Linked DNA regions of Homo sapiens. The protein of the gene in region 1 purifies or fractionates together with the protein of each later gene. This does not show direct contact. Each region holds a gene or a part of one and is shown on either strand. Other genes may lie near its edges. The genes, in order: KIRREL1 and UBR3.

Region 1 (11,235 bases):
TCTGCTCTGAGGGAGGGGACACACAGAGGGATGTCCTGGCTGAGAGGTCAGGAGTGAAGGGGTTTGGGGCTACTCCCCTCTGATTCCTGCCTATTGTAAGAGTCTGTGCATCAGAGGGAAAGAACTCTCTGGGGCCTTCCCTCCAGAACCTGGCCTCCATGCTCAACTGGGGAAATGCCCTCACTTCGTTAAAGTGTACTGAGCATTTGCTATGTGCCAGGCTCTGCCCCAGGGGCTGCAGAAAGAGCTGTGAACAAGACACAGTCCCTGACCTCAAGAAACTTTCGGTGTAGTGGAGGAGGGACTTACAGAGTGGTAGTAAATTAATTCGGATGGAGAAGAATCATATGAACTGCAAAAGGGAATAACACGCCCATCTCATTGGGTGGACGTGAGGATTAAATTAGAGAATATTTACAAAATGCCTGGCATACAATAGGTGTTCAGTAAGTATGGGTTCCCCTACCTCTTCAAGAATTGTCACTCTGATAGCAGAAAAGTGTTCTCTCCTTTAAGGCACTTCTCACATGATAAAAGAGGTATTCCTTTGACTTTTTTGGAAGCTACCAAGTCCAAGGAGGAAAAGATAGCATTTTTTTGTTGTTGTTTTATTTTTTGAGAACTAACCATTTGACATAGGAGATGGAGAACCACATGGAAAATGACAGCATCCCATCACTTCAGTCTTTTTTTTTTTTTTTTTTTTGAGATGGAGTCTTGCTCTGTCGCCCAGGCTGGAGTGCAGTGGTGCGATCTTGGCTCATTGCAACCTGTGCCTTCCGGGTTCAAATGAGTCTCCTACCTCAACCTCCCGAGTAGCTGGGACTACAGGCACCCGCCACTACGCCCGGCTAATTTTTTGTATTTTTAGTGGAGACGGGTTTTCACCGTGTTAGCCAAGATGGTCTCGATCTCCTGACCTCATGATTCACCCACCTCGGCCTCCCAAAGTGCTGGGATTACAGGCATGAGCCACCATGCCCGGCCTATCACTTCAGTCTTAACTAAGGATGCCAGCAAGGGGGTTGGGGGTGGGGAAGAATGGAGTAGATACAGTAACGTGGGGCTCCACAGGGAAAGATCTCAGAGGGGAAGAGCTATAAGCAGGATCTGGATTCAACTAGGGCTGCTAGGAAGACAGAGAAGGCTGGAAGCAGGATTCCTGAGCTCTTCCTCAGCTCTGGGAAGCAGAGGAAACCAAGGAAAACTGTTGGAGCCCTGAGTAGATAGGTGAACATTCGGCAGTCACAGTGGTATTATGGATGGCACAGTGGTGAAAGATGTCGGAACACGGGTGGCAGATTGGAGAGTTTGGAGACAGCTGACCTCAAAGAAGAGCGAGGGGCCAAGCATCATAGTCAGGTGGGCTGAAGGACAGGGATCGACAGACAACCAAGACCAGGGGCAAACTCCTGCCCCAGCTGCAGGGATGAGACATGACCATGATCTCCATTCTGATGGAGCTGGAGCACAGACCAAAATCCAACCACAATGCAGACCTTCCTCTCTAATCCAACCTTGACTTAAACCTAACACTGTCCCCAGGCTCAGTCAAAACTTAGCCCTGTACACAAGCCAAGGTTGCCTCTGTGGCTGTGGCCTAGCCTTTAGCCAGCACTGAGCTTAGCTCCCAGTATAACTCCAGCCTCACCCCTCCACCTTTCCTTCCCCATCGAAAGAGGTGTTACCTGTGGGCATCATAGCTGGGGCCACCATCGGCGCGAGCATCCTGCTCATCTTCTTCTTCATCGCCTTGGTATTCTTCCTCTACCGGCGCCGCAAAGGCAGTGAGTATGGGCCCTGTGCAGCCCACAGCCTTCCCCTGGCTCTTCCAGGGCCATGACAGGCAGTGCTTGGGGTGGATGGGAGGTTGGCCCTTGAGCTCCAGCCCAGAGGGAGCCAGAAGCAGCCGCTGCAGAGACCAGCAGGAAGCACTTGTTCCAGGCTGCCTCTCCCGTCCCAGGTCGCAAAGACGTGACCCTGAGGAAGCTGGATATCAAGGTGGAGACAGTGAACCGAGAGCCACTTACGATGCATTCTGACCGGGAGGATGACACCGCCAGCGTCTCCACAGCAACCCGGGTCATGAAGGCCATCTACTCGGTGAGGGTCCTGCTCCTCTCTGGCCTCCTGCCTTCTCCACCCTCTGAGGACCAGCTCCATCCCAGATCTCTAATAACCGCGGTCATTCTCTCCTTCCTCAGTCGGTCTTCCCTGGTCCTGCCACACACACTCTCCCACACTCACACACATTCTCTCACACACGCCCCAGGCTAGTTTCCTCCAGCAGAGGATAGGCAGCTGGGATTGTCCAAAGACTTCCTTTGCCCCACAGTGTGTGAAAGTTGGAAGCCCCCAGAGGCTTTCTGGTCCATCTGCCTCATTGCTGAGATGAGGAAACAGCCCTGGAGAGGGGCAGTGACATATACAAGGTCACATTACATGTTAGCAACCAAACTAGTGCTCGAACCAAGGTCTCTGGCCTCTTCCCACCACATCCCAGAGCCTCTGCTGAGAGGACCAGAACTCAAGTCTGCCCTTGACCTCAGACCCCACCCATGAGCAGGTGGCCTCTGAGCGTGGGGAGGGGTTGGTGAGGGGCGAAAAGAGCAGGGCTTCCGTCTGCTGACGTCCCACTCCTGCTGCTCCACAGTCGTTTAAGGATGATGTGGATCTGAAGCAGGACCTGCGCTGCGACACCATCGACACCCGGGAGGAGTATGAGATGAAGGTGGGAAAGGGGGAAGGGGCCAGGGCATGAGGGCTGGTGGGCCAGTGGGTTTCTGAGGTCCTGTAGCGGGGAGGTGAGGTGAGGACAGACTTGGGGAGGAGTGGTTGGGAGGGTTTTTGAAGGAGCAGAGGAGGTGGAATGCTAGATGGGGACATAGGGAGAGCTGGAGGAAGAGGCCCAGAAAGCCATGGTGAGACTTGATCCCCACCCAAGAGGGAACACTGCCTCCATCCTCTTCTCTCATTGCCCCCAGGACCCCACCAATGGCTACTACAACGTGCGTGCCCATGAAGACCGCCCGTCTTCCAGGGCAGTGCTCTATGCTGACTACCGTGCCCCTGGCCCTGCCCGCTTCGACGGCCGCCCCTCATCCCGTCTCTCCCACTCCAGCGGCTATGCCCAGCTCAACACCTATAGCCGGGGCCCTGCCTCTGACTATGGCCCTGAGCCCACACCCCCTGGCCCTGCTGCCCCAGCTGGCACTGACACAACCAGCCAGCTGTCCTACGAGAACTATGAGAAGTTCAACTCCCATCCCTTCCCTGGGGCAGCTGGGTACCCCACCTACCGACTGGGCTACCCCCAGGCCCCACCCTCTGGCCTGGAGCGGACCCCATATGAGGCGTATGACCCCATTGGCAAGTACGCCACAGCCACTCGATTCTCCTACACCTCCCAGCACTCGGACTACGGCCAGCGATTCCAGCAGCGCATGCAGACTCACGTGTAGGGGCCAGAGCCTGGCTGGGGCATCTCTGCGGGGCAGAGGAGAAGGCTTTCACAGCTGTTCCCTGATATTCAGGGGCATTGCTCATTGCTCCCTTCTCGGACCAGCCTTCTTCCTCCCACCATGGCAGGTGGGGAGCAGGTCTCCCAGAAACACCCCGTCCCGAGGATGGTGCTCTGTGCATGCCCCAGCCTCCTGGGCCTGCCCTTCCCTCTTCTTCGGGAGGATGTGTCTCTTCTGACCTGCACTCTTGCCTGACCCTAGAATGGGGACAGGGAAAGTGAAGGTTAGGGAAAGCAGAGGGGGGCACTTTTTAGCATTCCCTTTCTATCCCACCCCTCTGATCTCCCATAAGTGGAAATGGGGGTACCCAGGGATGGGCAGGCTTTGGCCTAGGGACATGAAGTATGGGAGTGGGTGGCTGTGGCACAGACAGGTGGAAAACGGGATAGCCTGGCCAGTCCCTCTGTTGTCTGCATTCGTGCCCTGGGTGCCTCTCTCCTTCCTCAGGGTACTGCAGAAGGGAGCGAACAGGGTACTGTTCGCTCTTGTCTACAGAACAGCCCTGGCACTGCATTCAAATCCAGTCTTCATTCAGCTGGGATCAAAATGCCAGTCACCTTGGCTACCCACTGTGGACAGCTGTCTGTCAGCATGCAGAGGGATCCAGGAATCCCCCCGGCAGCACGGCCCGCTTTCCTTCTCCTCCATGCTGGGCCAGCCAGATAAGTCAGGGTCCTGGTGGAGAAAGAAAGGCTAGGACCATGTCCTCATTGACCCAGATACTGCTGTGTGCTGCACAGCAGTGAACCAACACTAGAGGGAGCCACACAAGCCTCCTCTCCCCAGTCTGCCCCACTTCCTGGCTTTAACTCTTGAGCTGGTTTGGGGAGTGGTGAGGTAGGGGTGGGGGTGCTGTAGGCTCTTTTTCAAAGAAAACAAAAAACAATGAAAACCTCATTTGGGAAGAAAAGCTGTAGGGATTCCCCCACCCAAATACAAGTCCCAGTGGAAAGGAAAGGTAGTACCTATTCTTCTCCATGGGGTTCCTAACACCCTCCATTACTCTTTCAGTCTCCAAGCACTTTGAATCCATTTTTAAACATTCAGGTTGCCAGACCTGTCACACAGTGGACTCTGATAGGGTTACGGAGGGGGCCTGGCTCTCAGTCTCTACTCTCCTATGTCCCATCAGTTGGTTGGAGGCCACCTTCCAGGGGGTATGGGAGACAGGTTTTGGTTTTTAAGTGTCTTTTTTTTTTTTCTTGGACCAATCAGATTCCTTCTTCCACTTTCAGTGCCTTGAGTGTCAAGCTTTGGATGACCGACCCTATGTGGGCGGTTGTGTGGGGAGTGGGTACTTGTGAGCCTCGGACACACTGTTAAGTGTTACAGTGTTAGGAGAGAGATGGGTGAGGGGACCTGGAGAGGTAAGGGGCCTGGAAATGGCCCTGACAGAGAACTTGTGCTGACCGGGAGAAGGTGGTGCGGAAGGGCACCGCAGGCATTACACAGGCCATTTCTCCTCCTCCATGTGCACGCACATCCAACACACACCTTCCATGTGACTGCTTCTCAGCCACCACTTTCTGACCAAAGAGAACAGGCGCTCCAAGGAGAACCTGTACCCCTGCCCCAGCCTCGCCTTCCTAAAAAGCAGTGTCTGGAGTTGGCTGTTTCCCGCCTCCCCAGCTGCATGTCCAGCCCAGTGGGAGACAGGGCCTCTGGTGCAGTTCCCAAAATGTTCCTCGCCCTTTCTCCGTGGTCACCATTCATAATTCATGTTCGCTTTAATGAGTTACATGCTTATCAGCCACAGGCCATTACCACCCTTATGGATGGGTCTGGGGGGCGACATTCCTGGCCAACCCCTTGTAGGAAGGACCAGATAATACCCAGGAAGCAAGTAGCTCTAATTTTAACTTCACAGGAAGTCTGTGCATCCTCCTTCATTTCAGCAGGGAAAACTCCTGTGGAGTGGGCCCTATCTGGGGCATTTACAGGCTTCCAGCTGTATTCCATCCCTGGAAGCTGATACCTTTCTATAGAGTCCTTTTATGAGAGCTCAGTGGGAAGGTCTGTCAAGAAATTCAGGTTCTTGTACAGACAAATTCATGCAAATTTCTATTATTTTCACAAAAACCAGAAACCATGGGGGAATCCAAAGACTTGAAGTCTAAAGATGGTGGCTTTTAAAACATGCATATTCCAAAAAGAATTCATTTTTGTTTTGGGTTTGGCTAGATTCTCTTATTTATCCCCTTTTAGCTTAAGTATTAGTTTCATTCTACTGAAATGATGGAGAGAGGGCCTAAGGTTACTAGGTAATTGAGCTGATGGTGCAGGGAGAATTGTTGAGAAAGGAAGCCTAGTTTCCAGAAGCCTGACACAGAGCTACTTCACTGTCCTCTACTCCTTAACAAGGTAACTGGAGCCTCTTGGGTGTCAAACAAGCACCCTGGAAGGCACAGGGAAGCATCAGCAACCAAGGTAGTCTCTGCCCTCTGTAACTTACGTGTTGGTGCATCAGAATCTGAATTGGAACCTACCTGATGGGCCCAGTGGAATAGCTTTTCTGGGGAGTGGAAGGCGTCCTTGATCACAGAGCTTTGCTGTCGAATCCTGGAGTCCTGCAACATGGTGATGCCTCAGTAGTTGGTGATCCTGATCACCTTTGGTGGCTTGTTTTAGTGGAAAGAGCAAGGGACTAAAGGTCAGGAGACCCAGGACCCAGTCCTGAAGCTGCAAAGGTTAGATCTCGGCCTAACTTTCTGTTCATTGCCCCCAATTTGTCTGGCCTGTAAAATGAAGGGGGAGGGTTGCATAAACCTAAAACTATTCTGGTTTTGTTATACCCATAGGGTTGGGGGTAGGGATGGGACTGCCCATTGCTGGCAAGGAACTGGGAACAGTAGCAAGCATGGTGAGGGCTGGAGAGCTGGCTGGGGGGGTTCTCTCCTGTTCAAAGAAGCTTTCACCATGGGCTTCATTATCTTGTCAGAAGTGAATTAGTTTCCACCAGGGACCCCTTTATCCCAAACAGCAACACAAAATACACCCTAAACCTCAGAGTAAAATTGATGTGGGGCTATCCTTTGGCTATCGGGTCATCTGTGCTGCTCCCCACTCATTTCTGATGGGTTTGCAAAGGTGCCTTTTGCCAGGGCAGGACATAGTATGCACATAGGGATATTGTTATGTGCCTAGGTTTCAGGCACTCCTTCTGTAGGGGAAAATGGGAGGAGCCTTCCTCCACCCTGATCCTTAGGAACATTCCTCTGGCCCAGGGACAGCTTGTTCTTCTCACCAAACAGGTGAAGCCTGCAGTCCAAGGTGCCTGGAGCCAGAGGTCGGGGAGTAAGCACAGCTGCCCCTGCCTGAGAAGGAGCAGCTTGCAAGGGGAGCCGGTGGAGGGAAAGGGGTACAACAGCTTTGGAATACATTCTGGATCTTGAGGAGGATCTTGTGATTTTGGCTGAGCCACGGTCACTTCCCTCGTGAAGGACCCGCCCTATATCCTAAATTCTGGATCCCTCAAAGTCCAGCCACAGAGTTTGCATGAAGCAAAAAGCCTAGTAAGTGAGAAAGGAAAGGGGCCAGGGATGGGAGCAGTGCTGTGCTGTTATCACTGTCTTGCTTGGAATGAAAACATCTGAGCACCCTGTCTTCAAGCGGTACGCTCTCCCCTTATTCCAGCAGGGCTACTTTCCTCTTCACTCTGATGAGGGGAGCTTTATCTGCTTTCAAAATGGAGCACGTCGCACTGGAGTTTCGTGCCCTCTCGTTAACCTGTCAGGAGCCACAGGGCTCCATAAAACGGAATCAGTGTCTCAATATACATGACCTATGTTCATAGCAATGTTCAGCCATTTGGGTTTGAAGAAAACCACATTAAAGCCAAGACCCGTTTGGAGCGAACTGCCTTGTTCTTTGCTGTGTGGAAGGTTCTGTCCCTACTGCTGAACTCCAGTTCCTCCCCAAGCACCCTGGCCTCAGAAATCCTGGCTTCCCCAAGTTAGTGCTGTCTGACCTGAGCCAGGCCACTGCTTGGTGCCTCTACAGGCCACTGTGCATGTTGAGAATTGCCCAAAAGGATTAGTGAAGCTCCTGACCCTGGCGAGGCCATAATGAACACTGAAGTGCACAGGCCAAGGGATGTAATTGAAAGGCATTTATTTTTGTGAAGATGCTGTAAAATTAGCATTTAAATATCCCATTCCCTTCTCTTGGCCTCCTCCTATCCCCCTATGGTATTTCTCCTCCTCTCCTCAAGGCCAGGCTTTTTGTGAAAGGCATTGGCTCATCTTTGTCAGCGTGGTCCTGACGTTCACCTCTGGGCTGCTGGAGAGGACTGAGAGATGTGTGGTTTGGTAGGAAGGGGGTGTGTGTGGGGGTTAGTGGGGAATCCCATTTTTTTGCATCACTGTGAGGTAGCTTCAGGCCCTGTCCCTGGAGAAATAATTGCTGCGCAGAAGTCACAGGCCATACTGGGCAGTTCTGGTACAAACCTGCCCTTATTAATAATAACAATAATAATAATAACTCCATTTGCATAGAACTGTCACTCATTCCTGCCAGTCTGCTGTCCCTACCCTGGTTTTTTGCTGGCCCCAACCACTGGCCTTGTTGAGTATCGATGGGCCCTGAGCTCTTCTGTTTGCTTTTGGAGCTCTTCAGATGCTGTCCCCCCTGAGAATACCCTAACTCTGGGGAAAGAGCAGCCAAAATCCCAATACAGTAAAACTCCACACAATCTTGTTAGCAACAGTGACCCAGAAAATTTTGAGAAGTCCAATTTCACCAGAAGAGGCCCAGGGCTCCCTGTGGTCACATTTTCTACCCAGCCATTCTTGGCATTGCAACCTCCATTTCTAGCTCCTGTTGAATTTTCTCCACCCAGACCCCAAAAATAAATGGATCCATGATGATAATTAAGAGAAGAGAAAAAAAGATATTATTTTTGTTAGGACAAACCATTGTAGGTTTTTAGCAATGTGTATCTGTGTGTCCCTCACACCTTTTCCTATTCTACTTTTTTTTCCTTTTTTTAAAAATATTATGTACTATATTTTTAGTCTCAAACACACTATATATTATATATATTTAATTTTTTTATATATATAAATATAAATGTTTTAAAAAGTACCATGTTTTGTGTTATTTAATGCATTAACGGCTAGTTACTTAAAAGCCTGCCTGGCTTTGGGTGTTAGTCCTGGTTTGGGGAAAAAACAGGTTTGGATTGAAATTGCAGAAGCAATGTTTGTGCCACCTCCAGGCCGTGGGGCAAAAACGTATTCTCTAGTTTGCCACTTGTGCAGAACCCTGAGGCCAATTATGGCAGTTCAGGGACAAACAGCTGGAGGCTTCTGCTATTGGAAAACAGCATCCAAATGTTCTGTGCCAAATCGCATTATGGGAATGGGAAAAGGGGAGACTTTTGAATCTGAGATCTAGATCCCAAAGGAATTGGGACAAGTGTGTAAGAATGGCTGGTTTTGTTTATTTAAAACGCTGTGGTTTGGGTAAAAAGCAAAGTTACAAGGTCTCCAACCTTTTGAACTTGTAGTGAAGCAGAATGAAAAAACAGATGGTGCAGCAGTGCACACACACAGAGGCCATCCTGCTGAGAAATCCTAAATTCTCTGAGTTGAGTTCCCAAGGGTTTCAGTTTGCTCATTTCTCAGGAGTGTTTGCAGATACCTGAAATAGTTTTCAGATAATGTTTTGTTTTATTTTGTTTTGGACTTTTATTTTGTTTTGTTGTAGAGGCTATGTTGCCCAGGCTGGTCTTGAACTCCTGAGTTCAAGTAATCCACCCACGTCGGCCTCTGGAGTCGCTGGGATTACAGGTGTGATCCACTGTGCTTGGCCCAGATAATGTTTTTTAAAGCTATAAATCATTAGAGAAATAGGGTTTATTGTTTTCTTCATCCAGTTAACAACGAAGCAAACTCAAGACAGTTTACCGTAGCCTTTTTTGTACACAAGGGACACCCAACATAGTCAGAGAGGAAGACAGGATGTAAGAGCTGAAAAAATACTTTCGAAATAATGCAACCCATTTCCAAGAGGGCTAGAAGTCACGGCACAGGAGCTGCAGCTGAGGAAGGGTGCAAGGTGCCATGGGGCCTGGGGTTTGGAGGCATGTAGCCAGGACCAAGAACCTATAGGTAGCCCAAGGTGAATCCAATCCAGATGGGAATGAGAGGCCGACGTACAGGTATATTTGGAGGCTGCATTGAGGTAAGTTGCACTGGCATAGGTAAAAATGGCATTGATAGAATACAAAAGCAAACAGAAAAGAGTAGGGAAAAAAGACCAGGAGAGGAAGCAAAGTTGTGCAAATGTGGAGGCACAGGTGAATACTATTAGGCCAAGTGGTGCTGGGGCGCTTCCTATGTTATGTGTCCACCTGGGATACATTTATTCATCTCCACATCCCCAGACCCCAGCACAGGGCCAGCAGGTTCTTTGGGACGAGTCTGTATAGGGCACTACATAAGGCCCCAAGGGCCTAAACCAACTCTCAGCCACAAGAAAGGCCACAGGACTTTGTCCCTGTGTATTAGGCCTCTTTCTGTGATGGGAGCCCCAGCCCCTCTAAGTCACCTCCAGCCTGAGGATAAGTAATAATGACACAGCCCCTTTATCATCTGGCTTTGCAAAGTTGTAAAAGCCACCCCCTCATTGTGAGGCATTTGTGTCACAACAGGAGCTATTGGCCCAGGCATAAACACACTCCTGTGTGAGTTCAAATTTCTCCATGAGATGACCCCACATCTTTCACTTACTTCACAACCCTCCCTTTCACTTACCCTACATTTCAACACAGTTAAATGGAATTATGCCTTGTTTGTGGTATGCCCCTGAACTTTCCTCCCTCTGTGCTTTTGTCCAAGCTCTTTTCTCTGCCTGGAGTCCCTTTACTTTCCCATTTCTAAGTTTTACTTATCTTCAAGGCCCAGCCCAAAGGCCATCTCCTACAGGAAGCCTTGCCTGACTCATTACTCACCTTCTATTCCTCTCTGGAAGTCTCGTGGGTTAGCTATTATGTCACTGATCTCATCTCATTTATAGCCCTTCTGCTTTGATAACAGGATGTTGTGTATGACACATTAGCACTTTCCTCCTAAAAGAAGGTCACTGAGAGGCAGAGAGCATGTATCATTTATTTTAGTATCCATCACCCAACAGAGTGCATGTAGTTTCTCAGCATGTGCTGGAGGAATGCAGGTATGGAGGGAAGGAAAGAGGGAGGAGAAGCAAACCATAAACACAATACATAAAAGGAATTTATCCTAGGGGAGTTTTTCATGTGCATCTGTGTGAAGAGACCACTAAACAGGCTTTGTGTGAGCAACATGGCTGTTTATTTCACCTGGGTGCAGGCAGGCTGAGTCCTAAAAGAGAGTCAGCAAAGGGTGGTGGATTATCATTAGTTCTTACAGGTTTTGGGATAGGCAGTGAAGTTAAGAGCAATGTTTTGCGGGCAGGGGTGGATCTCACAAAGTACATTCTCAAGGGTGGGGAGAATTACAAAGAACCTTCTTAAGGGTGGGGGAGATTAAAAAGTACCTTCTTAAGGGTGGGGGAGATTACAAAGTACATTGATCAGTTAGGGTGGGGCAGAAACAAATCACAATGGTGGAATGTCAGCAGTTAAGGCTATTTTTACTTCTTTTGTTGATCTTCAGTTACTTCAGGCCATCTGGATGTATACGTGCAAGTTACAGGGGATGCGATGGCTTGGCTTGGGCTCAGAGGCCTGACAGAG
Region 2 (12,117 bases), on another chromosome or scaffold:
GCCTGGTCTGGACAGCCAACTTCGTGGCCTACCGCTGCCGGACGTGCGGCATCTCGCCCTGCATGTCGCTGTGCGCCGAGTGCTTCCACCAGGGCGACCACACCGGACACGACTTCAACATGTTCCGCAGCCAGGCCGGGGGCGCCTGCGACTGCGGGGACAGCAACGTGATGCGGGAGAGCGGGTGAGTGGAGCCCTCCCCGCGGGCGAGGCGACCCTGGGCCGGGGACGTCGCGGGAGGGCCTGGAGCGGAGCACTGGGAGCCCACTCTGAGCTGTCAAGGGGAGGGTGCGGGGGAGGGTGCAGCCACAGGGGGATGGAGGTGACTGAGCTGTCAGCGGTGGAAAGGGGGTGGGGAGGAGAAGGAGGGGAGAGGAGAGCGGAGAGCATGTTTAGGAAACCGGGCTGTGAATTTTGGGGAAGCCAGGGTGGGTAAATGATAGCGAGAAAAGAGCCAGTGTATGGGGTAGGAGGGGAGTGAGGGGAAATGATTTTTGGGGAAGCTCGTGTCGAGCTGTCAAGTGTGTACTTGTTGGGAAAGGCTGTAAAGCCTGGTTCTTGGGAAGAGACTTAGGTTGTGATTTGGATTGGCTGGGAGGGGATGTTATTGGGGACCGTATTGGCTCGCGGGATGATGAGAGCTGGGGAGGTGGTCTTGTACGTGCAGGGAAGGACGCTTGAGGAAAAGGTCTTCTGAACTGCCAGTGTGTCTGTCACTGTGAGAGAAGGAGCTCTTGAGGGTTGAGGGAGGAGGGAAGGGGAGGGGCCTGCATGAAAAGTGACTGTTGAGCTGTCAGTGGATTATTTGGTATGCTGGAATGACATTTAGAATTGGGCTACTGAGCAGTCAGTTACAGAATACCCTCCATACCAGGAGAACAAACAAAATACTGAGCGAACCAGGAATCAAGTGTTAGGTCTTCTCCAGTTAAGGGCACTTTGTTCACTCACTGATACGTGAACCTCTGTCTAAAAGGAGACAACAAATGCCCTTTTGACAGAAGCGATGCATCAGATGTTGGGACTTATGAGAAAAGACATTTCAGAGTTTGCAGTGAGTTACAGAGAGTTGGTACATGTAGGGTCGTGGCTTGGAACATGATGTCAATGTCAGGGACAGTCTGAGAAAAAAGGAAAAAGTGAAAGGGGCGATTTTGGATGGGCAGTAGTTGAAAGAATATTAGCAACTACAGGTTGCTATCAGTTATTAAACTTCTTCAATTTTCAGGTCTTAGGATTAATGACAGAGTACAATCTTTTTATAAATGGTCACCTTTTTCTTCGGAGTACTTGTAAGGTTACTGTTACTCCAAAATGTTTGTACCTACTATGTGCAAGCAAGGCTTCTTGGATATTAAAAATGAATGAAACATTGACCAACCCCTTACTCTACTTGCACTGGAGTAGAAAGTAATAAATTCCTTAAACAATAACTTGGTAGCTAGAGGAGGGAGATGAGGTTTCTGTGCAGAGGGAGTAAGAAAAAGTCTTCAGAAAGGAGGTATTTTGAATTTGCTAATAATAATAACAACATAATTGCAGCTAACATTTGAGTTTTTTTTTTTTTTTTTTGAGACGGAGTTTCTCTCTTGTTGCCCAAGCTGGAGTGCAATGGCGCGACCTCGGCTCACTGAAACCTCCGCCCCCTGGGTTCAAGCGATTCTCCTGCCTCAGCCTCCCAAGTAGCTGGGATTACAGTCATGCACTACCACGCCTGGCTAATTTTGTATTTTTTTAGTAGAGACAGGGTTTCTCCATGTCGGTCAGGCTAGTCCCGAACTCCCGACCTCAGGTGATCCGCCCGCGTCGGCCTCCCAAGTGCTGGGATTACAGGCGTGAGCCACCGCGCCCGGCCAACATTTGAGTTCTTGAACTGTATGTCTGATACTTTAAAAGTACTTTTTAAAATTTAATATTTGAATAGGTAAAATATATAGCTAAAAAGTACACACACACACACACACACACACACACACACACACACACGGAAGTTTTTCTCACATCTAGTCTTCTATCTGTCCAGTTCCTTCCCGCTTAGTTTCTCTTGGTGCAGAACAAGCAAAGATGTTTCCTAGTTTTTCAGTCTCTTTTTATGCAAAGGGTTACATACTTTCCACTGTTCTACATCTTGCATTTTTTGGTTATCTTAGATGTATTTTTCCTATTAAAAAATCAGTGTCGTCATTCTATTTTTTTAAAAAAACTGCTGCATAGTGTTCCATGTTTTCAATTTGCCATTCTTTAATTTCTTTTTTTATTTTTATTTTTATTTTTTGTGCGTGTGAATTTGCCATTCTTGATTTAATGTCTCTTCATGGGCATTTGGCTTTCCAGTATAAAATTAAAAACGTGGTGTATCTGTCTTTTCCCCACCTGGTCAAGAGAGTCAGTGGGATAAATTCTCAAAAGTGTGATTTCCAAATTGCCCTCCCTAAGGCTTAGTACTAATTACTCTGTGAGACTGCCTGTTTTCCAACAGCCTCATCAACAGAGTAGTAGTAAAATTTTGGACTTTTATCTATTTGGTTAAAAGTGGCCAAATTCTAGCTGTTTTATGTGATTTAACTTATTTATTCTTTGACTCTGAGATTATTACTTTTATTATTCTCATTGTACAGAAGAGGAAAGTAGGGCAGAGTTAAAAACCTTGCTCAAGTTCACACAGGCAGTAAGCTAGGCATGCTGGCTCCAGGGCTCTGGAGCCAGACTAATCAACCATTTCTCTTTACTGCCCCTACTAAATAGCATTCTTACTGGTTTTTCTTTTCAATTCTATGTTTTATCTTTTTTTTTTTCCTTAATATGCTATTCTTATTTGGGCCTTTGTTTCTTTCTTTTTAAACTTTTTTTGTTTGTTTTGTTTTAAAGAGGCACATCAAAACAGGAGTTGGAGCAATCCTTTACTGATATTTAGACATTTTTACTTCTTGGACTGGGTTAGCATTTAGGAAAGCCTCCAGAGAACCTGAAGGTAGGAAATAACACTGATTCTTTCCTGACTTTTGGAATACAGTGGTAATTATCAGGTTGTCGTGGATGAGATGGAAGTCTGATCGCTTGTGATGCTTCAGTGTACTACCAGAAATATGTCAGTGAGTTTCTTTGAAGGTATTCATACAGTTTTAGGGCATCCAGGCTATAGACAGTCAACATCCTAACCTCATGGTATTTGCTTTTACTGGTGTCTCATAGGTAAGTATTATTTTCCCAGTCTGGCAACCCTCTATGAGTTGGTACATTATATATATATATATATATATTTTTTTTTTTTTTTTTTTTTTTTTTTTGAGAGAGAGAGTTTTGCTCTTGTTGCCCAGGCTGGATTGCAGTGGCACGATCTTGGCTCACCGCAACCTCTGCCTCCCGGGTTCAAGTGATTCTCTACCTCAGCCTTCCAAATAGCTGGGATTACAGGGATGCGCCACCACACCCGGCTAATTTTTTTTTTTTCTTGTGTTTTTAGTAAAGACAGGGTTTCTCCATGTTGGTCAGGCTGGTCTTGAACTCCTGACCTTAGGTGATCCACCCGCCTCGGCCTCCCAAAGTGCTGGGATTACAGGCATGAGCCACCACACCCGGCCGGATACATAATATTTAAAGATTTATTATTATCTTTGTCTGAAACCAGAGCTATTGCCTGTATGTGTCAGCAGTTGCCATGTCCAGTTTCATAAAGGGCAAGATTGAACAATAAACAGTATTGTGGCCATGCAATTACTCTGAATTTTTTCTAACTGCTTGGATTGGATAGAGTAATTTTCCTGGGCTATACAGCTAATTTACTGCCTCAAGAGAAATAGGTGATGTTGACCAGCTCTGCAACCTAAAAGACTGCCTCTGGAACCTTTTTAGAACTGGAAATCATCAACAGCTTGTAACAGTGTTCTCATGGGCAAAGCTGGACTACACTGGCATGAACAGAATGTTTGAACTTTTCTAAGTTTTTGGTATTTTAAAAACCCCTTTAGATTGCCAAAGATTGAATGTGTGTTGATTTTGGGGTTTTTATTCTAACTGCCATAAGTTTGTAAATTTCATGGTTTAGTCACTTTTAGAGGAAGGATTCCTTTTTTTCAGCTGTATTTGTGCTCTTAGTAAATGAGAATAAATCTTTCTGTGCCATAATCCTTTTCACCAGTGTCTGACTGTTGCCTGTAGGATGTTCTTGATTGGAGATGGAGAAGAATCTTGAATCTATCACAGCTGTATTTATATTTAATTTTCAAATTAGCAATTATAGAACTGTGGGGAGGATTTAGTTATTTTTGACTGAGTAGTATTGATATAATCAATGTGGCAGTATTAGCAGATATACAAACCAAAGGAAGAAAACAATTGAGGATTCATTTGTGGGATGAAATCACAAAGGCTATGGAAATTGTGTGCTAATAACTGTATGTGGCTGGGCGCGGTGGCTCACGCCTGCAATCCCAGCACTTTGGGAGGCCGAGGTGGGCAGATCACGAAGTCAGGAGATTGAGATCATCCTGGCTAACATGGTGAAACCCCGTCTCTACTAAAAATACAAAAAATTAGTCAGGCGTGGTGGTGGGTGCCTGTAGTCCCAGCTACTCGGGAGGCTGAGGCAGGAGAATGGCGTGAACCCGGGAGGCGGAGCTTGGAGTGAGCTTGGAGTGAGCTTGGAGTGAGATCCCGCCACTGCACTCCAGCCTGGGCGACAGAGCGTGACTCTGTCTCAGGAAAAAAAACAAAAAAACTGTATGTATAACTACAGTTTTGCCACTAGTGAGTAAGTGCAGTCATTGTCAGAAATGCTTTATGGGGGCCGGGCGTGGTGGCTCACACCTGTAATCCCAGCACTTTGGGAGGCCGAGGCAGGCGGATCACCTTAAGTCGGGAGTTCAAGACCAGCCTGACCACATGGAGAAACCCCATCTCTACTAAAAATACAAAATTATCTGGGCATGATGGTGCATGCCTGTAATCCCAGCTACTCTGGAGGCTGAGACAGGAGAATTGCTTGAACCCAGGAGGCGGAGGTTACAGTGAGCCAAGATCATGCCATTGCACTCCAGCCTGGGCAACAAGAGTGAAACTCCATCTGGAAAAAAAAAAAATGCTTTATGGGTGGATGAACTCAAAACAAAATAACCTGTAATGGAAAGTCTAAAATACACTCGTTCCTCAGTATATGGTATACATAGGAGACTGGTTCCAGAATACCCACCTCCCACCCACTCTTCAGGGTATACTGAAATGCTGCTTATATGAAAAGTCTGCCCTTCATGTATGTGAGTGTCAGATCCCATGAATTCTGCATTTTTGATCCATGTTTAGTTAAAAAAATCCTTGTATAAGTGGACCCTTGTAGTTCAAACTAGTGTTGTTCAAGGGTCAACTGTAATGTCTGACTAGCTGGTTTTGGGCTCTGATGGGATACTAACTGGAAACTGGGATTTTAAACATTTAGTTCTCAAATTTTGGTGCAGAGAATGAGGAGTTTCATGTTCTGTCCTATATTACAGATATTTTTGTCTCCTTGCTTGTTCTTCCTCACATATTCTAAGCTCCTTAAAAGATAAGGACCACATTTTGCTATTAGCCAGAGGCCAGCACCTACTAAGTCTCTTGTACTTAGGAGGTGTCAGTAATTTTGAATTAAATTGGATAAAAAAGTGGCTGCTATACCCAAAAAGTTACTGTAAGATTACATTGCTTTAGTTACTCATGAGGTGGCATTGATTATTAAATCCATAGCAGCTTTTTTCAGAGTGCTTTCATTCTTTTTTTAGTTTCAGAAGTAATACACATTGATTATAACATAAAAATAAGTGGATAAAGTAAAAAGTAAAGGTGCCTTTCTCCATCCTACCCCTCAGTAAGAAATTTCCTTTTCTTTTAAGGTTACTTATGTGTTTAAAAGAGATTAGTTATAATTTATCCAGCATTTCTAGATTTTTTTTTTTTTTAGTGACAGGTTCTCGCAGTGTCTCCCAGGCTGGAGTGCAGTGGTGTGATATCACAGCTCACTGCAGCCTCTACCTCCCAGGCTCAAGTGATCTCCCACCTCACCCTCCCAAGTAGCTGTGACTGTAGGCGCACACCACCACACACAGCTAAATTTCTTTTTGTATTTTTTGTAGAGATGGTATTTCACCATGTTGGCCAGGCTGGTCTTGAACTCCTGGCTTCAAGCAGTCTACCTGCCTCAGCCTCCCAAAGAGCTGGGATTATAGGCGTGAGCCACAGTGTGGTGCCTGGCCTGTGTTGTGGGAGGTTTTTAGGTTTTCTGATCTGTGGTAGCCAGAAATTGAACCACGTGAATGTCTGGTTGAATAGTGTTACTCTCTTCAGTAGCTTGCTTTTTTCCCCTTAACATATTTATGGATACTATCTCAAAAGTAGAACTGCTTCATTTTTAAAGTTAAATAGTATTTCATTGTATTTCCATGTTTTTGTAATGTACTATGATTTTTGCGGTCAGTCCCTACTGATAGACATTTAAATTGTTTCCAGACTTGGGCTGTTGTAAACATTGTTGCAGTCAGTATTCTTGTATACACTTGTTCATATGTGTGTGAGCTTATGTATGAGGATACATTCCTAGAAGTTATATCTTGGTTGAAGGAAATTTGCAAATTCAACTTTGATAGAACCCTCCAAAGAAATTAATTTACATTCCTGCCAACAATGTATGAAACAATTTGTTTCCCCATATTCTGGCAGTATATATGGTGGTATCAGTGTTTCTGATCTTTGCTGCTCTCATAAGTGAAAAGTTATATCCCATTTCATCTGTTATCTCCCTGTCCCACTGCTTTTTCGTCCCAGCCAGGACTATTTTGAAGCAAATATCAGATACCTTATAATTTAATTTAAAAATATTTGAGTATGCATCTCAGTAAAGAGATGTGAACTCTAAAACATAACTCAAATGTCCATCAGCAGATGAATGGGTAAGCAATATGTGGAATATACGTACAATGGAATATTTAACCTTAAAAAGTAATAAAATTCTGACACATTAGAATGTTACAATGTAGATAAACCTTGAAGACCTTATGCCAAATGAAATAGGCCCAGCACAAAAGAACAAATGCTTGTATGCTTCGGTCTATATGAAGTGCCCGGAATAGTCAAATTCATACAGACAGAAAGTAGAATAGTGATTATCAGAGGCCAAGGGAAGGGGAGATTGGGGAGTTATTTTTTTAACAGGTACAGAGTTTCAGTTTGGGAAGATGAAAAAGTCCTTGAGATCGATGGTTGTGATGGTTGCAAAACAATGTGAATGTACTTAATGCCACTAAAACTGTACACTTAAGATGTTTTAAATGGTAAATTTTATGTTATTTATATTTTACCACAATTAAAAAATAATGTCAGGTATGGTGGCTCGCACCTGTAGTCCCAGCTACTCCCGAGGCTGAGTTGGGAGTATTGCTTGAGGCTGGGAGTAAGAGGCTGCAGTGGATTATGATCACACCTGGGAATAGTCACTGCACTCCAGCCTCAGCAACATGAAGTGACCTCATCTCTTGAAAAGAAAGCAAAAAACAAACAACTCCCCCAAAACCACAATACCAATACTACACCTAAAATATTCATATTTTGTTTGTTTGTTTGTTTTGATATGGAGTCTCACTCTGTTGCCAGGCTGGAGTGCAGTTGCATGATCTCGGCTCACTGCAACCTCTGCCTCCTGAGTTCAAGCGGTTCTCCTGTCTCAGCCTCCCTAGTAGCAGGGACTACAGGTGCATGCCACCATGCCCAGCTAATTTTTGTATTTTTAGTAGAGGTGGGGTTTCACCATATTGGTCAGGCTGGTCTGGAACTCCTGACCTCAGGCAATCCACCTGCCTTGGCCTCCCAAAGTGCTGGGATTACAGGCGTGAGCCACCGTGCGTGGCCTAATTTTTAAATCATTATAAAACTCAGTTAAAACTATTTTCAATTATGAAACAATTTGAATTTACAGAAAAGTACAAAAGTAGTATAACAGATACCTTTGTACTTACCATTGAGATGAATAGATATTAACCTTTTGCCATGTTTGCTCTAGAGTTGCTTTTAGTCAAAAAACCAAAGAAAGGTCAACCCACCTTTCCCTTTCTCTTTTCCTCTCCAGACGTTAACCATTTTCCTGAAATTCCTGTGTGCACTGTCTCTCTCTCTCTCTCTCTCTCTCTCTCTCTCTCTCTCTCTCTCTCTCTCTATATATATATATATATATATATATTTTTTTTTTTTTTTTTTTTTTTTTTGAGATGGAAACTCGCTCTGTCCCCATCAGACTCAGGCTGGAGTGCAATGGTGCGATCTCGGCTCACTGCAACCTCCGCCTCCTGAGTTCAAGCAATTCTCCTGCCTCAGCCGCCTGAGTAGCTGGGATTACAGGCGGCCGCCACCATGCCTAGCTAATTTTCATATTTTTAGTAGAGATGGGGGTTTCACCATATTGGCCAGGCTGGTCTCGAACTCCTGACCTCCGGTGATCTTCCCGCCTCAGCCTCCCAGAGTGCTGGAATTACAGGCATGGGCTACCACGCCTGGCCCCACCAGGAATTTGAGGTCTTGTTTTTCTGCTTATTGAAACTTGGTGTTAATGAGAACACATGGACACCACGAAGGGAACAACACACACAGGGGCCTGTTGGGTCGGGGGCAGGGAGAGGGAGAGCATCAGAAAAAATAGCTAATGCATGCTGGGCTTCATACCTAGTTGATGAGTTGATAGGTGCAGCAAACCACCACAGCAACCATTTACCTATGTAACCTGTACATCCTGCACATGTAATTCAGAACTTAAAAAAAAAAAAACCAAAAGACACTTGGTGTTATATATATAAATTTATAATATTTTACCAATCTGTTGGATACAAACATCTTTTTAAAATTTATATTTTCTTGACTAGTAAAGTTGAACATCTTTTCATATGTTTTGGGGCCATTTGGGCTTCTTTCTTGGTGAACTGCTGGTTCATATTATTTGCCTGTTTTGTTTTTCTGTTTTACTGAGTTTTAAGAATGCTGTACATACTCTAGATGCTGATCCTTTGTTGTATAAATACTTAATTTCATCTTCTAGTTTGTGTCTTGTCTTTTTACCTTGAAATATATAATTTTGTTGTAAACGATTTTAAATTAAAAATGTAGTTTTTCTTCTACAGTTTGTATTATTTGTATCTTGTTAAAGAAATCTTCTTCACCTTGGTTTAAAAAAATGCTTATATGTTTTCTACTGAAAGATTTAAGGTTTTTCATTGTACACTTAGGTCTTTTGTCCATCTGGAATTTATTTTTACATGTAGTATGAGATTGAGGTCTGTATTAGTCTGTTTTCGCACTGCTATAAAGAACTGCCTGAACGGGCCCGGAGGCTCACGCCTGTAATCCCAGCACTTTGGGAAGCCGAGGCAGGTGAATCACCTGAGGTCGGGAGTTCGAGACCAGCCTGACCAACATGGAGAAACCCCATCTCTACTAAAAATACAAAATTAGCCGGGTGTGGTGGCGTGTGGCTGTAATCCCAGCTTCTCGGGAGGCTGAGGCAAGAGAATTGCTTGAACCTGGGAGGCAGAGGTTGCGGTGAGCCGCGATCACGCCATTGCACTCCAGCCTGGGCAACAAGAGGAAATCTCCGTCTCAAAAAGAAAAGGAAAAAGAACGGCTGGAGACTGGGTGATTTATAAAGGAAAGAGGTTTAATTGACTCACAGTTCAGCATGGCTGGGGAGGCCTTAGGAAACGTAGAATCATGGTAGAAGGCACCTAGTCACAGAGCAGCAGGGGGGGAGAAGCGAGCAGGGGAAATGCCAGATGCTTATAAAACCATTACATCTCGTGAGAACTCACTCACTATCATGAGAACAACATAGGGCAAACCATCCCCATCATCCAGTTACCTCCACCTCATCCCACCCTTGACGTGTGGGGATTATGGGGATTACAATTCAGGATGAGATTTTGGGTGGGGACACAACCAAACCATATCATTAGATCTAATTTTATCTTTTTCAATATGAGGATTCACTTATTGAACATTTTTTTCCTCCATTGATCTATAATGTCACCTCTATCACAGACCAAACCTATGTGTGTCCTAAGTTCTCTATTGTATTGATATGTCTCTTATAACAATACCATACTACTTTATTAGAACATTAAAATGTATTTTGATATGGCAGGATTTCCTTATTATTAGTCTTCAAAAGGGTTTTTGGCTGTTCTTGGTTCCTGTTTTCATTTGAATTTCAGGAGCTTGTCAAGTTCTCTGGAAAACTTCTGTTAAGATGTTGACTGGCATCACATTAAATATGAGGAGGTTGCAGAAAGATACATGTTCAAGTATGTTCATTGTAACACTGAAATAGGGAAAAATGGAAACAGTGAGATTAGTGAACTGTAGTTTAATCATTCAATGGAATACTTTATGGCAGAATACATAAATTGCCATCCATCTTAGTCTGTTTGTGCTGCTGTTACATCAGACGGAGTAATTTAGAACAGAAATTTATTTATTCCAGTCTGGAAGCTGGGAAGTCCAAGATTAAGGCATTTGTGTGTGTGTGTGTGTGTGTGTGTGTGTGTGTGTGTGTGTGTGTGTGTGTGTGTGTGTGTCTGGTGAGGCCTTCTTGCATACTCACATGGCAGAAGCGGGGAAGAGGGCAAACAGGGCCTAAGGTAGTTCCCTCCAGCACTTGCTTAAGGCAGAGCCCTCATGACTTAATCACATCCCCAAAGGCTTCCGCCTCTTAATACCACCACAGTGGAGATTAAGTTTCAATGTGAATTTTGTAGGGGACACACGTTCAGACTGGTGCTCTGCCTCTGCCCCTCGCCCCCAAAAAGTTTATGTCCTTTTCACATACAAATACATTCATTCCATTCCAGTAACTCCAGAAGTCTTAACTTGTTCTAGCACCAGCTCAAAAGTCTAAAGTTGAGTCTCATCTAAACATCATTTCAATCAGATACGGTGAGACTCAAAGATACGCTTCATCCTGTGGCAGATTTCTCTCTAGCTGTGAACCTGTGAAGTCAAACAAGTTACCTGCTTTCAAAACACAGTGTCTACACTGTTGGTGGGAATGTAAATTATTAATAGTACAGCCACTGTGGAGAACAGTATGAGGTTCCTCAGAAAACTAAAAATAGATTACCATGTGATCCAGTAATTCCACTACTGAGTATATATCCAAAAAAAGGGAAATCAATATATGGAAAAGAGACCTGAAGTCCCATGCTTATTGCAGCACCATTCATAGTAGCCAAAATATGGAATCAACTTAAATGCCCACCAATGGAAGAATGGATAAAGAAAATGTGGTATATATGCACAATGGAATATTATTCAGCCACAAAAATAATGAAATCTTGTCATTTGTAGCAACATGGGTGGGACTGGAGGTCATTATGTTAAGTGAAATAAACCAAGGGCAGAAAGACAAATATCACATGTTCTCACTCATGTGTGGGAGTTAAAAAAGTGGATCTCATGAAGATAAAGAGTAGATTGGTGGTTACCAGAGGGAAGGGTAGAAAGGAGGAGGGGGATAAAGATAAGTTAATTAGTGGATACAAATATATGGTTTGATGGAAGAAATAAGACCTAATGTTAGATAGTATCTATCAGTAGGGTAACTGTAGTTTACAATAATCCATTGTAAATTACAAAATAGCTAGAAGAGAAGAATTTGAATGGCTGTAGCATAAAAAGACAAATATTTAAGGTAGTGGTATTCCAAGTACATTGATTTGATCTTTACAAATTATATGAATGTATTACATTATTACATGTACTCAGAAACTATGTACATCTATTATGCATCAAATAAAACACACACACACACATATAGTGCAATGGTGAGAGGCAAGCACAGATGTGTTCATTATGAAGGGAGGAACAGGCAAGAAGAGAGGAGTGACAGATCACAAGTAAGTGTAAAACTCAGTAAGGCAAACAACATTAAATCTTAAGGCTTGAGAATAATTGTCTTGCTTTCTGGACACACTGTGTTGGGGGTTGGGTCCCCAAGGTGTAAGAATTAAAGAAAGAGGAAAGAAACACGAAAGGTGGCTTGCTGGTCAAGACAGATTTATTTTAGAGAAAACAAACCTGAGAGGAACCTTCTGGCAGAGTTAGGCCCACTGTCTT

Evidence for each region.
Region 2: the proteins of KIRREL1 (region 1) and UBR3 purify together in Homo sapiens (co-immunoprecipitation; 2 studies listed by BioGRID and IntAct, with this or other methods). This does not show direct contact.

What each region holds. Positions count from the first base shown.
Region 1 is NC_000001.11:158,091,660-158,102,894, forward strand, and holds the end of KIRREL1 (kin of IRRE-like protein 1 isoform 1 precursor), read left to right. Parts: intron 1-1,679; coding exon 1,680-1,787; intron 1,788-1,963; coding exon 1,964-2,103; intron 2,104-2,653; coding exon 2,654-2,731; intron 2,732-2,984; coding exon 2,985-3,461; 3' UTR 3,462-8,603; downstream 8,604-11,235. UniProt on the Homo sapiens protein: Required for proper function of the glomerular filtration barrier. It is involved in the maintenance of a stable podocyte architecture with interdigitating foot processes connected by specialized cell-cell junctions, known as the slit diaphragm.
Region 2 is NC_000002.12:169,827,869-169,839,985, forward strand, and holds part of UBR3 (E3 ubiquitin-protein ligase UBR3), read left to right. Parts: coding exon 1-184; intron 185-12,117. UniProt on the Homo sapiens protein: E3 ubiquitin-protein ligase which is a component of the N-end rule pathway. Does not bind to proteins bearing specific N-terminal residues that are destabilizing according to the N-end rule, leading to their ubiquitination and subsequent degradation.